3 separate regions of the Homo sapiens genome follow, and regions 1 and 3 are each linked to region 2. The links come from fine-mapping of genetic effects on gene expression. A gene starts in region 2. Each other region holds a variant in brackets. All regions are shown on one strand. Distances are between the middles of the regions.

Region 1 (5,000 bases), 25 kb before region 2:
GAGTGCAGAACAAGTCTATATAATGAAAGAGTATCTTGACACTGGAAACACTGATGAAGGATTTTATCTAAATTGCCTGCTCTCCCAGCACTGTTGGAATCGAGAAGAGATTTAATTTCTTACAGATTGCCAACATCTGTGAAAATTTTGAGATCGATTAAAAACAACGTGAACTCTATTTTTTGTACTGCAACCAATAACAAATTCAATAAAACATGATAAAGGAAAGTGGTAGTTTTATGGGGCTGCTAGAGTCATTGGGTTTATTTTACTATATATAATTTAATTCAGTGCAATAAACATGCTGAAATCTATTATTTGTTAAGCAATTACTATGCATTATGGAACATAAAAATGAGTCAGACACGGTTCTTATTATCCAGAAGCATGCCACCTACATACAGGAAGCAGGGAAACGATGATAAGTATTGTTAGTTAGCCATGCAAATTAAATTTGTGTGGAGCCAGAATTTTGAAAACACAAGGCTAAAGAAAATCATTAAATAGGGGGGTATGTTTTAAAAGATTACACAATATTTACCAGTTTTTAAAAATAATATAAAGATGTACAAAGAGAAAAAACAAAGGGTCCATAGTCTCTTTAAAATAGGTACTTTCAAAAATAAAAACAGTAAAATACTTTCAATGAACATTATTAAATGTATGAAAAATTACTCACACTCTTGAATCATACTCATTGTATCACTGATGTTCACAGAGGCCAGATGTGTTGCTACAACTAACAGTGGAAAAGGACAGTGGAAATATCACAGGCAGGCTGGGTACAGTGGCTCACATGCTGTAATCCCAGCACTTTGGGAGGCTAAGCAGGTGGATTGCTTGAGCCCAGGAGTTCAAGACCAGCCTGGCAATCATGGCAAAACCCCGCTTATACTAAAAATACAAAAATAAGCCAGGCATGGTGGTGTGCTCTTGTAGTCCCAGCTACTCAAGAGGCTGAGGTGGGAGGATCGCTTGAGTCTGGGAGGCAGAAGTTACAGTGAGCCGAGATCAAGCCTCTGCTCTCCAGCCTGGGCAACAGAGAGTGAGACACTGTCTCAAAAACAAAAACAAAGATGAAATATCATGGGCAATGTAAAGTTTCAGAAGATTTTTTTATTTCAAATTTGGTTCTCAAGATGAGAACATGGAATAAAGAGACAAGAAGTACTAGATTCGGTGTCTGGAAATATGTGTGCTAGAATTGCCATCTATTGCAATGAATAACAAAAAATGTATTAATCTTTTTTTTTTTTACCTCAGATTGAGAAAAGACAAAGTAGAGTGATGCTATACTGAAGAAGAAATAAAAGTAGTAAAACATTCTAACGGTTGAGAATAGATAGAATAGGGTAAAGCTATACTGAGGAAATAAAAGTAGTGATACTCTAATGCTTATCTAAAGGCAGATTACTAATGGATATCTAAAATAGAACTATTTTTATAATTAAAAAGTTTATCAGGACTTGAGAACAGAGACAATTAAAAATTCATATCCATATATCTACCTCCTGATATTCAAAGATACCTGAAATAATATTGTAACCCTCAGTTGTTTCCTTCACTTTCCCAAAGCTAGGGGCCACAAATGAGGGTGAGGATGGCTTTCTTTTGCAACCTCCAATAGGGAACAGATTAGTGTGAAGAAAATTAGACAAATCTATCAAGTTCTGACAATCATGGACAGTAGGCACCTGTAAGCCATGTTCTCACAAATGTTAGTATCACTATTCAAATAAAATCTGAGTGGCTCAACAGACTGGTGTAGTGATCAGTTCTCAGTTTTGCAGGGTGAGAAAGGGTCTGCAGCAAACACAAAACATGCAGAAGATCATGTAAAATAATCACCACTCACCGCGCGATCATTTTGCCGAAAAGGGTGACATAAAGGGCATTGCAGGTTGTAGCAGAACGACAGTGTCGTTCTAGCTTCTTCTCCTGCACCAGTTTACCAAGAAAAACAAAACAGAAATACAAAAACCACCCTGGAATTAAGCGGTCTTTACTACCCAGCCATCAACAAGTACCCCGACAGAAATAACACTATTGCTGCCATCCGTGACATCACAACATGCAGTGGTGGCTCCTCGGCTGTGGGCAGCCTTCCAACTGCAGACCACAGATATGGCCAGTATGAAAATGCTCTTTTGCTTTTAAAATACCTGCTTAATATTATATACTAAAGTCAACCTTAAGACCAAAATCTTTTTATTGCTTCTTTTCTACCTGTCATTAGTTTAAGAGGCAATACATTTACCAAAGTAATTACTAAACTCCAGTTTTCCTTATAACAGATCCCCTATATTGAATTTTAAGTCTCACATAAGATGTTTCATAGGAAAGATGAGAGAGTAAAAGATTGCATCAAAATGAAAAATACACACCTGCTCTTTACTCAATTTAATGTCTACAGAGTGGCATTCTGCAATTATAATAGATTTTGCATCTTTTGGACTTAAGGGATCAAGATGAAGTGTAGGCCACAACCTTTTATGTAAAGAAAAGAAAAATGAAATTTTAATAATACAACAAGAACTGTAATTACCCATAACACAATTTAAAATCCACCACAGGAATTAACACTTTATACTGCTTTTGTAAAATAAGCAAAACTAATGTCTATTAATCATATTAAGTAATTAATATATCT[T/TACTC]ATTCTAATATGTGTATCATTACTTTGAGCAATGAATCACAACAAACAGTGTTATAAAATAAACAGTATATACATTAGATAGTTACATGGTAAAACATTTCTAGTTCTATGTTCCATACTATCAGTAAAACTAAGCATAGGTATGAGTATCTATGAGGAGTGGCATCAGACACAATTATTGTCCACAAGCACTTGTAATGCAACTGAAATTTAACTATTACAATATACATTCTTGATATGGTACTGAAAATTGCATTTGTGGGGGAGTGAAAAAACTTACTCTTTTTATGTATAAAGTACACATAGACACATATATCTATATACACAAGCTGATATACAATATGTGTGTGGTATTAAAATTTCTTGGGGGAGGCAATTACAAATAAAATGTCTAAAATGGCTCCTTATAGGAGCAAAAACAGGTTGAGAAACACTGCTCCATGGGATCCAATTGCTCTACTTTTTTTTTTTTTTGAGGCAGAGTCTCGTACTGTTGCCTAGGCTGGTGTGCAGTAGTGCCATCTCGGCTCACTGCAACCTCTGCCTCCCAGGTTCAAGTGATTCTCCTGTCTCAGCCTCCCAAGTAGCTAGGATTACAGGCGCCCACCACCACGCCTGGCTAATTTTTTATATTTCTAGTAGAGGCGGGGTTTCACTGTTGGCCAGGCTGGTCTTGAACTCCTGACCTCCCGATCCACCCGCCTCGGCCTCCCAAAGTGTTGGGATTACAGGCATGAGCCACTGCGCCCAGCCATTTGTTTGTTTTTTGAGATGGGAGTTTCACTCTTGTCGTCCAGGCTGCAGTGCAGTGGTGCAATCTCAGCTCACTACAACCTCCACCTCCTGGGTTCAAGCGATTCTTCTGCCTTAGCCTCCCGAGTAGATGGGATTACAAGCACCCGCCACCATGCCTGGCTAATTTTTGTATTTTTGGTAGAGATGGGTTTCACCATGTTGGCCAGGTTGGTCTTGAACTCCTGACCTCAGGTGATCCACCCGCCCTGGCCTCCCGAAGTGCTGGGATTACAGATGTGAGCTACCATGCCCGGCCACTCTACTACTTTTTAAAGAACCATTAAAGTGAGCTTGCATTTCAAAATAACAGGTGTCTATTATTCCCAGCCCGGCCCTTTCTCTATTTTCCTCATCTATAAATTTAACTGCCTACTAGACATCGTTACGTGGAGCTACTCAAACTAACCATGATTAAAAACTAAACTCATCACCTTTTCCCCACAACCTGCCTGTCCTTTGTGTTTCCTATTTCAGTTCATGAAGCTACATTAATTAATTTCTCAAGTCAGAAACTCCAGAATCATCCTGGCTCTTTCTTTTCCCTTGCATCCCAGATCTATCTAACCTCCCCCCAAATCCCTTTTTTTTTGGAGACAGGGTCTCCCTCTGTCACCCAGGCTGAAGTGCAGTGGCATGATCTCTGCTCACTGCAACCTCTGCCTCCCAGGTTCAAGCGATTCTCCTGCCTCAGCCTTCCAAGTAGCTGGGATTACAGGCATGCGCCACCATGCCCAGCTAATTTTTGTATTTTTTGTAGAGACAGGGTTTCACCATGTTGGCCAGGCTGGTCTCAAACTGCTGGCCTCAAGTGATCCACCCGCCTTGGCATCCCAAAGTGCTGGGATTACAGGTTCACACCATCTATACAATTCTATAGATTGTATTTTTTTTTCATAAATTCACCCACTTCTCCCCATCCTCACTGCAAGTTACATAAAAAATGTGAAAACCATAAATGCATATTAAAAATCTTTCCTTGTTTGTACTTAAAACATTTCATGTACTCTGAAAGAACTAAAGTTGGCATCGTACCTCCATGCTGGAGGGCATGTTTCTACATTCACAGAAACAATTACTCTTACATTCACTGGCAGTGGATCTATCAGCCATTTCATGTGTTTTTCAACTTGCTTAAAAATATAAAAACAAAATTCAATCTATTAATCAAAATATTTCAAAACAATCCAATAATAGCTCCCCAAATAAAATGAAATTCTCATTAAGTTTATCTTATTAAGGATAAAAATCTTATTTTGGGGTGATTTATTTTAGAATTTTAAAAGAACAAGTAGCAAAACATTATTATCACCAATCTGAACTCTGGACACGTCAGGAAATGTCAAGGCCCTAAAAATATGTCAGAACGAATAGTCTTTGTTAATTGTGTAAATTCAGTTGGTCTTTCTTAATAAGATATTAGTGTCTGTGGGCATACGATATATTTTTTTAATCCATGTTACCTCCCTAGAAATAAAGCAGAAATATAAAAAATAACATCATATTTTCTTCTCACAAACATATAAATGCCTGCTCTAGCTATTACTGAATTTACATC
Region 2 (5,000 bases):
TTCCTGAATCCTACATGACTTACTTCTATTTATTCATCGCATTATATATTATATATACTTTTAGAATATACTATTTTATTCTATGTTGCTTTGGGGGTAAAAATGTAAGGAATTTACCTTGAATTGCCTTTTAACTTTATCTCTGTCATGTTCAAATGTTGCTGCTCTCTCCATTGCTTGGTATTTCGCTTCTAAAGCACTTTCTTTTTCTCGAAGTATCTTCTGATACGTTTTTTGAAGTGCCTAGAATAATTTACCTTGTTATTTCCTAACAAAAATAGTCTTGCTCCTCAATTTTACATTCTTATATATATACATATATATATATATATGTTACGTATCTTAGAATTTTAAGTCTACTTATTATTTTACCAATTATCAGGAACTTCATGTTGCCATTTTATTCAAAACATGATGGAAAAAAACCGCAACCATGCTTGAACTACCACAAATAAAGACCAACATTAAGCTTTCAATGGAAATTAACTTTTTTTGAAACACTGCATCAGCTCTTAAACTTCCTTATGCCTTTTCCATCTTTGTGATAGTAAAAATTACATTTTGTAAGGCTTAACTTGAAGGATAAGTAGTTCTAAGAGACTGTGTGCCTGTTGGCACTATGTCTTATTCATCTCACCATCCCTTGAGCACTTCACAGTGCCTGGTACACTGCAAGTCTCCAGTAAATGTCTGACACAATGAATGAAATAAATATGGATAAGTTTTTTCATGCCTCGATATGTGAGAAAGGAACCAGTATGTTTCACAGGGAATCAGGATTGGTGACATGAGTGACTGTGACACTTGCCAACCCTTATTGCACTCCGCCCTGTTTGGTTTGGCCTTTTCTACCCCCACCTCACAGTTGTTTCCAACGTGCGGTGTCTGTTGGGCAGTGGCTTGGATACATTGAATCAGATATTTGAAATGCACTAGTCCATTTTATACATGCAAGTGCATTAAGGTTGCCCAGTAGGAAAACTGATAAGACAACAGATAAACTGCTACACGGACTTCTTCCCAGACAACGACAATAATTACACAACAGCTAATGAGGGAGTTTAAAAACAAAAACAACAACAACAACAACAACAAAACCTGACTAGAAGAATGTCTAGTCTTGAAGACAGGAGGCTTTTTTTCTTTTAGAAAAATCAGTCTGAGGTATTTATTTCACCCCGACTGTAACGACTCCGGGAACTCTTAGGCTGCCTATAAGTCTCTCCCACAGTAAAGAGTACACAAACGACACAACAACGACCAGAGGGGCCCCAAACTGAGGGCAAAAAGTTTTAGAGATTCGTTCACAGAAAAGCAACCTCTTGCTTTATACTATTTTTTTTTTTTTGATACGGAGTCTCGCTCTGTCACCCAAGCTGGAGTGCAATGGTGCAATCTCGGCTCACTGCAACCTCCGCCTCCCGGGTTCAAGCAATTCTCTTGCCTCAGCCTCCTGAGTAGCTGGGATTACAGGCGCGTGCCACCATGCCCGGCTAATTTTTGTATTTTTAGTAGAGACGGGGTTTCACCATGTTGGCCAGGCTGATCTCGAACTCCTGACCTCAGGTGATCCGTCCGCCTAGGCCTCGAAAAGTGTTGGGATTACAGGCGTGAGCCACCACGCCCGGCTGCTTTACATACTATTTTATTGAATTATAATGGACCTGCTACATGGAGGGCATGCAATAATTGCTTTTAGCGTAAATTAATCAAATGGACTAGGGAAATTTGACTACATCTAGAGAAGGTTTTCAACCATGGTGAGATCAGGAGGCTTCCAGAAATTTTCATGTCAAGACCATTAAAATGCAAGAGCGATGAAACTTTACAAAGAAACCGACACTTGAGCCCCACTTTGGAGACCCACTTAAAATTTTTATGGTGGGGAGGGGGGTGAAACTCCTAGGAAGAGTTTGCTGAGTTGCTTCAACAGATGTCACCAGCCTTCTGAGGGGGTGGGCGCGGGGGCGGCAGTGGAGCTGGAGATTGGCATTTGCCTCCTCAGGACACTTTCCGGCTAATTTCTTCTAGGTGCCTCAATGAATAAACCAGAAATAGAAAAGCGGGGACCAGGCGCGGTGGCTCACTCCTGTAATCCCAGAACTTTAGGAGGCCGAGGCGGGAGGATCATTGAGCCCAGGAGTTCCAGGTTGCAGTGAGCCGCGATCGTGCCACCGCAGCGAGACCCTGTCTCCAAAAAAAGAGACAGAAAAAGGGGAGGGTTAAGGAATCATTTCAGACTCGAAGAGAATATGGCCTCTCAAATTAAAATGGGCAGTTTCCGCCGAACTTTCAAAGCCGCTTGGTTTGGAGAGGGAGCAGGACGGCCGTGCTTCCCAAGGGTCTCCCGGCGTCGCGGCCCAGCCCGGCGTTACCTGCAGTTCGGCCCGCAGCCGCTTGTTCTCCGTGTCCAGCTTGGCCTCGCGGCGGCCCATGGACAACAACTCCTGGTTCTTGCTGACGCGAAAGATCTCGTACTCCTTCCTGAGCCGCTCGTACTCGGCCGCCGCGTACTCCAGCTCTGGCACCGACGAGCCAGTGGACTTGAAGCTGGCCCCCAGCAGCCCGCCCGCGCCCACCCCGCGGGGCAGCGACCCGGGCCCGGCCCCTGCTGCCGCCCCCGCGCCTCGGCGGAACGAGTTGCGCAGCAGGCGGGCCTTGGGCTTCACCTCCACCGGGATCTCGCAGGCCTCGCCGCCGCCCGCCCCGTACGTGTCCTCGATCACTTCCCCGCCCGCGGGGCTCACGAGCGACGAGGCGGTCCCCATGGCGTCCGTTGCCGCTACTACCTAGTGAGTACCAGCAGGACTGGGCAGCGGAACGGAACGGGACGGGGTGGGGCAGAGGAACGGAACGGGACGGGGCGGGGCAGAGGAACGGAACGGGACGGGGCGGGCCAGCGGGATGGAGCGGGGCCGGAGAGCAGGACTGGGCGGAGCAGCGGGACGGGGCGGAGCAGCGGAACGGGGCGAGGCGGGGGAGCGGGATGGGGCGGGGAAACAGGAGGGGCGGGGCAGCAGAACTGGGCGGGGCGGGGGTGCAGGACGGGGCGGGGGAGCAGGACGGGGCGGGGCAGCGGAACGGGGCGGGGCGGGGCCGGAGAGCCGGACGAGGCGAGGCAGCGGAACGGGGCGGGGAGGGAGAGCGGAAGGGGGTGGGGCAACTGGAGGGGCGGGGCAGCGGAACGGGACGGGGCAGCGGAACTGGGGGGATGGGCGAGGGGGACGGGGCGGGGCAGCAGGGCTAGGCGGGACAACAAGAGGGGCCGGGCAAGTGGGGCGGGGCATGTGGGCGGGGCAGGGCAAACGGGGGTGGGTCGAGAAAGCACACAGGGCCAGGCGGGCTAGCAAGAAGGGCGGGGCTAGCAGGAAGGATGGGGGGAGTGGCGACTGTGCAGGACCAGCAGTGGACCGGACGCTGGTGGAGGGGTGCTCCGAACGCTGGTGGAGTGGTGCTCCGACATAGGGCTTCTCTCCGTTGTCTCCGCCCGGCTCGAGGCTCCCTGGCGGGCGTGCCTCACAGGGAGCACAGGCCTGGGTCCCAGCTGCTCTACAAACGCTGCAGCTATTTCTTTCGCTGCCGCCGTGCCTGACCGGAAACTCCTTTCTGGAAGCAGTTGGGAAATCTGAAAAATTTATGGAGTGCCTGCTATGTGCTTCCCGCGATATCTCTCTCTCAGTATGCATGTAGATAGAATGACCAGCAAGGAATAATGCCAGCAAAGAAAGAGCTTTTAGATTTTACAGTCTGAAACCACCAGGGACAATCCTTAGACAAGGTTAAGTTTTTTAACTCATTGCGGCATGGGACATTGGAGACCGCACACCAGTCTCTCCTTCATTCCCTCCATCAAAGTGGCTAGTCATCTCTTCTCTTACCCTTTAGATTTTCTTCAGGAAGTAGTCATACTAGGCCTTTGCATTCTTCAAAATCCAGAGTGTATATACTAATTTCTTCAGGTGGTCTCCTGAGATAAAGGGAAATATTTCCACCATCACAGTACCTTAAGAACTTTCTACCTTTTCAAATCCGTTCTGATTTCTAACTTCAAATTTTTGAATTCTCCATGTGGATCAGGGGTTTAAGGATCATCCACTAGGTTTCTGACTAAACCCTTTGAACATTTTTGCATCTTAGTACCTCCTTTGGAATGGGCCTCAGCTGAACACTTCCATAACTATGCTTGAGTAAGAAGATAAAATAGCCATCACCCATTCTCTCCAACAAATAACCAAACTCACTATGCTAACTTCCTACAGCTTGGGGAGTACATTCAGATTCTACAGTCTGGAACTGAGTGCTCTGAAGCATGCATCTCTCCTTTCCCCACGTCATTTCTATCCAGTGACATGCCTCTAATCCACATTTCTCCACCCTACTTGCGTACTGATCTTAGATTACTATTGGTCAATGCCAAAGTGACCAAATTTCTTAATCCTAAAAAATGACATTATTTCTTCCTGGCTAACACGGTGAAACCCCGTCTCTACTAAAAATACAAAAAAATTAGCCAGGCGTGGTGGCAGGCGCCTGTAGTCCCAGCTACTCGGGAGGCTGAGGCAGCAGAATGGCGTGAACCTGGGAGGCGAAGCTTGCAGCCGAGATGGCGCCACTGCACTCCAGCCTGGGCGACAGAGCGAGACTACGTCTTTAAAAAAAAAAAAAAGACATTATTTCTAACCTCATAACCTGTTTTTCTTCATGCTGAATTTAACCCACGTACTTCAGTCTGCATTTTGAAAGAATAACTTTTAATACAGAAATATAGTGAGAATAAAATATTTGGCAGGTGGCTTATAACTTACTAAAGATGGCCACATTTTTTTTTAATAGTCCTCCCATAGAAAAGACAGCTAAGACAGCTACACAATTTGTGGGACCCAGTGAAAAATGAATATGTAATGCCCCTTATTCAAAAATTATAAATATTTTCAAGATGGCTACAGCAGAGCATTAAGCCAAGTATGGGGCCCTTTTGAGTTTTGGGCCCTGCGTTACTG
Region 3 (6,728 bases), 110 kb after region 2:
ATAAACTAGTTTAAGAGTTAAATTGTAATTATCTGCTGCTTGACATAATTCACATTTTATTCCCATCAAATAATTAAGGATTGATTGAATTGATAATGATGATATAATATGATTTCTTTTTACTTTAAAAACCTGTTCAGTTTGAAACATTGTCAAAATGGCTATCAGGAGAATTTAGGGGGTTAAAAGAGAAGGGGGTTAGAAAAACACCTTCTTAAGTGAAGCTGGCCCCCCTCCAAATTCTAGTGTCTCATGATCATGGAGAGGAATTCTGATGACCATTTCCATAATCAATGTCTTGAGGAGGAATTTATTTTTTAGCCCGGGAAGATAGGATCCTATCAGAATCTCAAAGGTATGAGAATGTTACAAGAGAGCTTTGGAAAAGGGGTGTCCCTAAAATTTGGCCACCCATCAGGGATGCAGAAATTGGGTTTCAACTCATTTGATAGCATGCTTCAAATTATTTTTATCCTATTATTGCTCCTTTCTTTGTAACCAGTAGATACCATGTGGATTCTGGCTTCTTTATCCTTTTGCAAGCACAGGCAAAAATTAGAGAAAACTCGGAATTACCCCTTTTCTTGTGGTTGCGTTATATGAGTAATTATCCATCATGAAATCCCTTCAACCTTCTGTTCAGTTTTGATCACTTTATTTCCTTTGGTGAATCATAAGAACCATGATTGCACATATGTTCTTTTTTAAATCTTTAATTAATACTCCAGTTGGATAAAGAATTTGAGAAATTGATTACCTTAATTTGAACTATTTTGGTTGCAAATGATAGAAAGCCAAGTAACAGTGGTTGGAGCAGAGATGCTGTGGTGTCTCAAAGATCTCAAGAGCAGAAGTGGGGCTGGGCTGCCAATGTTCAGCAGACCTCTGACTTCACCTTTTGCCTTTCTGTGTCTTTATCTTTATTTTGTACTTCATTTCTTTCTTTCTCACTCTCTCAACTGGCATACTCTGCTCACATGGGAAGGAAACATGGCTGTTAACAGAACCTATCTGAGTTTTTCATTTATAATTTCAGTCACCTGGGAAGAGATTGACCTTCCTTGTTTTCAATGGCCAAATCCCTGGTGAAGGACCCTAAGTGGTCAGCTTGGATACTATGCTTACCCTAGAACCAATCTGCTAGCCAGGACAGGTCATGGGAGGTGATTGGCCTACATATCTTCTCCTGGACCAATTAACTGAAGCCAGGGACACTTTGTGCAAGATGATTAGTCTAGAGTTTACCATCTTGATAGAGTGGGGCAGAGGATGGGAAGGGGTGATTTCCAGAAGAAAGTAGTGGAGGAGTACAGGTGGCTGTATGTAGTTTAGCAAAAATAGTTCATTACATTGATCTGAAGGAATTAGAATCTTATAGTCCATAAGGTAAATTTTACATAAAATATCACATGCCTCTGGTGCTGTGAGTTCCTTTAGAAAAAGTGTTTTTTTTTCTTTCGATTTACTAATTTATTTTTTATTTCCATAGGTTTTTGGGGAACAGGTGGTGTTTGGTTACGTGAATAAGTTCTTCAGTGGTGATTTCTGAGATTTTGGTGCACCCATCACCCGAGGAATTGCCTGCTGCTTGAGATACACTGTACCCAGTCTGTAGGCTTTTATCCCTCACCCCCTCTTACCCTTTTCCCCAAGCCCGCAAAGTCCATTATATCATTCTTATGCCTTTGCATCCTCATAGCTTAGCTCCAACTTATAAGTGAGAAGATACGATGTTTGGTTTTCCATTCCTGAGTTACTTCACTTAGAATAATGGTCTCCAACTCCATCCAGGTTGCTGTGAATGCCATTATTTCATTCCTTTTTATGGCTGAATAGTACTCCATGGTATGTGTGTGTGTGTGTGTGTGTGTGTGTGTGTATGTGTGTATATATATGTGTGTGTGTGTGTATATGTGTGTGTGTGTGTGTGTGTGTGTATATCTCACAATTCCTTTATCCACTCATTGATTGATGGGAATTTGGGCTGGTTCCATATTTTTGCAGTTGCAAATTGTGTTGCTATAAACGTGTGTGTGCAAGTATCTTTTTCGTACAATGACTTCTTTTCCTTTGAGTAGATACCCAGCAGTGGGATTGCTGCATCAAATGGTAGTTCTACTTTTAGTTCATTAAGGAATCTCCACACTGTTTTCCACAGCGGTTGTACTAGTTTACATTCCCAGCAGTGTGAAAGTGTTCCCCTTTCACTGCATTGCTGCCAACATCTATTTTTTTTTTTTTTTTTACCTTTCGATTATGGCCATTCTTAAAGGAGTGAGGTGGTATCGCATTGTGGTTTTGATTTGCATTTCCCTGATCATTAGTGATGTTGAGCATTTTTCCATATGCTTGTTGGCCATTTGTATATCTTCTTTTGAGAATTGTCTATTCGTGTCCTTAGCCCATTTTTTGATGGGATTTTTTTTTTCTTGGTAATTTGTTTGGGTTCCCTGTAGAGTCTGGATATTAGTCCTTTGTCGGATATATAGATTGTGAAGATTTTCTCTCACTCTGTGGGTTGTCTGTTTACTCTGCTGATTGTTTCTTTTGCTTTTTAGAGACATTTTAGTTTAAGTCCCATCTATTTATCATTGTTTTTGTTGCATTTACTTTGGGGTTCTTGGTCATGAAGTTTTTGCCTAAGCCAATGTCTAGAAGGGTTTTTTTGATGTTCTAGAATTTTTATGGTTTCAAGTCATTCTTCACAGAACTAGAAAAGACAATCCTAAAATTCATATGGAACCAAAAAAGAGCCCACATAGCCAAAGTGAAAAGAACAAACCTGGAGGCATCATATTAACTGACTTCAAACTATGCTATAAGTCCATAGTCACCGAAACAGCATGGTGACTATAGTATAAAAATAGGCACATAAACCAATGGAACAGAATAGAGGACCCAGAAATAAAGCCAAATACTTACAGCTAACTGATCTTTGATAAAGCAAACAAAAACATAAAGTGAGGAAAGGACACCCTATTCAACAAATGGTGCTAGGATA[G/A]TTGGCAAGCCACATGAAGAAGAATGAATCTGGATCGTTTTCTCTCACCTTATACAAAAGTCAACTCGAGATGGATTAAGGACTTAAATCTAATAGTGGTGTTTTAAAATATTAATATCTAGTTCCTGATTATGTCATGGATAAAGGTGATATAACAATTCAGTAAAAACATCCAGTGGTATTAGAAGTATGTGAATGTTGCAATGTTGATAGCAATGAAAATGAAACATCAAATCATTGTAATTTGGTTTCATTTGCTCAGCTACTAAAATGCCTTTTCAATTAAATGTGTATTTATTTTTATTTGCTATTAATTATGCAAATAATAAGTGATTAAGCAGCCATACTCTGGAAATATTTTGCTTGGTTTGATATTTTTAACTTTGCCATGTACTGGCTGTACAGCCTTGGAAAAATTACATGTGTCCCAAATTGCTTATCTGTAATTGGGATAATAATTTTGTCTTCTCAGTAAGGTTATTGTGAGATAAAATTAGGTAATACAAGTAAAGTGCTTAGAATAGTGCCCAAAATGTAGTCAGTATTCAATAAATGTTAGCTATTGTTATTATTAGTATACTTGTTGGGCATTATGACTTTCAAGATTATAAATGAACGGTAAAAAATGAACTTTCTTATATACCTTTTAACATTTCACTGAAATGCTCACTTAAAATAGGCTCTTTGTGAAAAGTTTGTAAGTTCCATCACATAAAAATACAAAGTCAAGGTTACTGGTCATGCTTTGAAGACCTAAGCCACAGTCTGCTCTAGGTATTCATTAAAACTTTTCCCAAATGTTCTATTTCACAGATGTTCCAGCACTCTTTCCTTCAGAGCACGTAGTAGGATTTTATTTTCTACACCTTCCATGGTAAGTGTGGCTGTGTGACTTGCTTTGGCCAATGATTCATAATATATCTGGATAGAGTCAAAGTATGTTTTGCCACATTCTCTTTTCCTCTACTATGACAACTGACCACCTCTAAGATCAGCCTTCTCCAGTAGCCTGAATCTCTCACTGAGAATGACAACTCACAATGGCTTTGAGGCATGATCAGCAAAGAAATTTTTTGTGTTTTAAATCACCGAGATTTTGCTATCTTCAATTCCAGTGGATCTAAGGCCCTTCAAATAAGGCCTCTAAAAAGAGGGTATCTTCAGGCATTGAGTGTGGCTAGGCTGGTTCTTTTTTGACTACATACAAGAATGAACATCTGTATAATTAGGTTATCAGTTTCAAAGAACATTACTAAGAGCAAACGTTCGAATGCAGGATAAAAACACCCACATTTTGTGTAACAATGCTGTTATTATTTAAAACTCTGGCATCAATTTAAAATTTATATTAAAGTAATAAATTTCTAACCCATCCTCATAGAAGCAGATCTCATTTTTAAGGCTGCCATCTCCTTTTGCCTTGTAAGGCCCATATACACATCATTCCAACACTTCCTAATGCTGTATTGATAAACTATCTTTCATTGTCCTGTCTAGTTTTAATTATCCATTAAAACCATCTCTTTCTCTTCTCTAATTTATGACACCTAATTTTCTCTATCCAGGAATTTCTATCCAGAAATTCCTTCAGGTTAAGTCATTTTTTAATTTCTTTTACCCATCTTAAAACTTAAGTACAGTTTATTTGTTCCTTGAAAAGAATGTTTTCTGTAATCTCTGGGCAAGGAATGAGTATCCAGTTGGGTTAAGGACCAGTTTCGAACTTGTGGAAATTTGATTTTATTGCAGATAGAGTTTTGCTGTACCATTTCCTCTGCTTCCAGTTGGCCAACAGAATCTTTTTAGTTTTTTTCCTCTGAAATGCTTCTTAAATCCACTCACACTTTTGCATCCCATGGACAGCACCATAGATCAGGTTCTCCTTATCTCTTGCTCATAAATTTCAAGCTACCCTACTGGTTTCCCTGGAACTATTCTCTCATCTACCATCAGAATTACCATTCTGGAAACCAAATTCTAGAAGCTCACTGTCTGCCCAGGGAATTAAATGAACGCTTCAGCATTTATAGTCCCTCTTCCATCTTATATTTTCTCCGCCACCTCGCAGGCTCCCATATCCACAATCCTGTAATGACACACTCTCGCCATTTGCTGCAAATATAGCTCTTCTAGTCCCTGATGCTCTCACCATGAGCTAAAGTATCTTTCTATTCTATCTTGTAATGGTTTGCTGGGGCTGCAATACTAAATACCACAGATGGGAGGCTTAAGCAACAGAAATTTATTTTCCCACAGTCCTGGAAGCTAGAAGTCTAAGATCTAGGTGCCAGCCAAGTTGGCTTCCTCTGCAGCTCCTTTCCTTGGCTCACAAATGACGGCCCTCTCGCTGCCTCTTCACATGGTCGTCACTCTGTGCACGCGCACCCTGGCATGTCGTTTGAGTGTCCTAACCTTCTCTTCTTATAAAGACACCAGTTTGATTGGATTAGGGCCCACCCTATGGGCCTTGTTTTAACTTAATCACCTCTTTATTGGCCCTATCTTCAAATACTGTCATATTTTGAGGTACTGGGGTTAGGGCTTCAACACAGGACTTTGGTGGAAGGAAACAATTCAGCCTATAATATAACCCATTTTCCAACTATTTATCCTTCAATATCTACTTTCCTGGGAAGCTTTCCTTGACTCCTCTAATTACTGACTCCTCGGTGCTCCCATAGCCCTTGGCACTTACCTCTGTTGTCACACTAACTGTACAGTATTGTAATAACTGATGTCACAGATTGGTAAATTTTTTCTTAAAGGGCCAGGTGGTAGATATTTTAGGCTTTACAAGCCAAACAGTCACTGTCATCACATTGCAGCAAAAGGAGTGCAGAGAGTTCTATATGTTCTCGGGTGACCGTATATGGGGGCATCACAAGCCCACAGTAGAGGACTTGTTCTTGGAATTTTACCCTAAGGATGGTAAACTGCATGAAAACATCTTTTGCTATGTATTCATTTACTTCTCATGAAAATCTAGTGCAGCTTAGGGAGTGACAGGACAAATACATTTTGCTACCAGATGCCATTTGGCCACCCATGCCATGGTTTAAGGAGCTGGGTGTTAATAGCAACTCAGATAGCTGTGGGATCCAGAGAAGGTCATTTAATCTCTTGGGAAAATTTTCTTTTTTCCTTTTTTTTTTTTTTTTTTTTTTTGAGGCAGGGTCTTGCTGTATTGCCCATGCTGGAGTGCAGTGGTGCTATCATGGCTCACTGAAGCCTTGACTTCTTGGGCTCAAGGGATTCTTCCCACTGCAGCCTCCCAAGTAGCTGGGACTACAGGTGTGCACCACCACACATGGCTAATTTTTGTATTTTTCTATAGAGACCAGGTTTCACCCTGTTGCTCAGGCTGGCCTTAAACTCCTGGGCTCAGGGGATCCTCCCACCTAGGCCTTCCAAAGTGTCGGGATTGCAGGTGTGAGCCACCATACCCAGCTTGCCTGGGACAAATTTCTAATTAAAAAAATAAATAGTTGGACTGAAAGCATTTTCAATGAAAGACCAATTGGCATTGAAGCAGGACAATTCTTTCACATGTAAGACTATCCTGCACATTGCAGGAAATTTTAAGTCTCTAGCTTCTGACCGGTAGCACCTCCTGGCCTTTATGGCAACCCAAAACATCCCCAAATATTTCCAAACAATCTGAGTTTTGAACACCTTGGATAATCTCAAAATCTCTTCAAATTCTGGAATTTTATGGCTTATATATATA

The links. PIP is the estimated chance that this variant, and not a neighbour inherited with it, causes the effect.
Region 1: its variant is fine-mapped to the expression of NPHP3 in tibial nerve (GTEx, PIP 0.98).
Region 3: its variant is fine-mapped to the expression of NPHP3 in unexposed skin (GTEx, PIP 0.94).

The regions. Positions count from the first base shown.
Region 1 is chr3:132,694,876-132,699,875 of GRCh38, forward strand. NPHP3 (nephrocystin 3) reads right to left here. Exons shown (of 27, transcript NM_153240.5): 13 at 4,478-4,575; 14 at 2,385-2,487; 15 at 1,856-1,938; 16 at 1-90. It overlaps NPHP3-ACAD11 (NPHP3-ACAD11 readthrough (NMD candidate)), which reads right to left. Exons shown (of 45, transcript NR_037804.1): 13 at 2,385-2,487; 14 at 1,856-1,938; 15 at 1-90. Among named protein-coding and RNA genes, the nearest start is that of NPHP3-AS1, 24 kb to the right of the region's middle. The variant T/TACTC (reference allele first, on the strand shown) is at 2,651.
Region 2 is chr3:132,719,588-132,724,587 of GRCh38, forward strand. NPHP3 (nephrocystin 3) reads right to left here and starts at 2,822. Exons shown (of 27, transcript NM_153240.5): 1 at 2,376-2,822; 2 at 118-243. The coding sequence starts at 2,768. It overlaps NPHP3-ACAD11 (NPHP3-ACAD11 readthrough (NMD candidate)), which reads right to left and starts at 2,872. Exons shown (of 45, transcript NR_037804.1): 1 at 2,376-2,872; 2 at 118-243. It overlaps NPHP3-AS1 (NPHP3 antisense RNA 1), which reads left to right and starts at 2,163. Exons shown (of 11, transcript NR_002811.2): 1 at 2,163-2,792. RefSeq lists silencers at 2,479-2,728, 2,829-3,338 and an enhancer at 3,579-3,768.
Region 3 is chr3:132,824,132-132,830,859 of GRCh38, forward strand. NPHP3-AS1 (NPHP3 antisense RNA 1) reads left to right here. Exons shown (of 11, transcript NR_002811.2): 9 at 3,815-3,875. Among named protein-coding and RNA genes, the nearest start is that of NPHP3-ACAD11, 110 kb to the left of the region's middle. The variant G/A (reference allele first, on the strand shown) is at 3,002.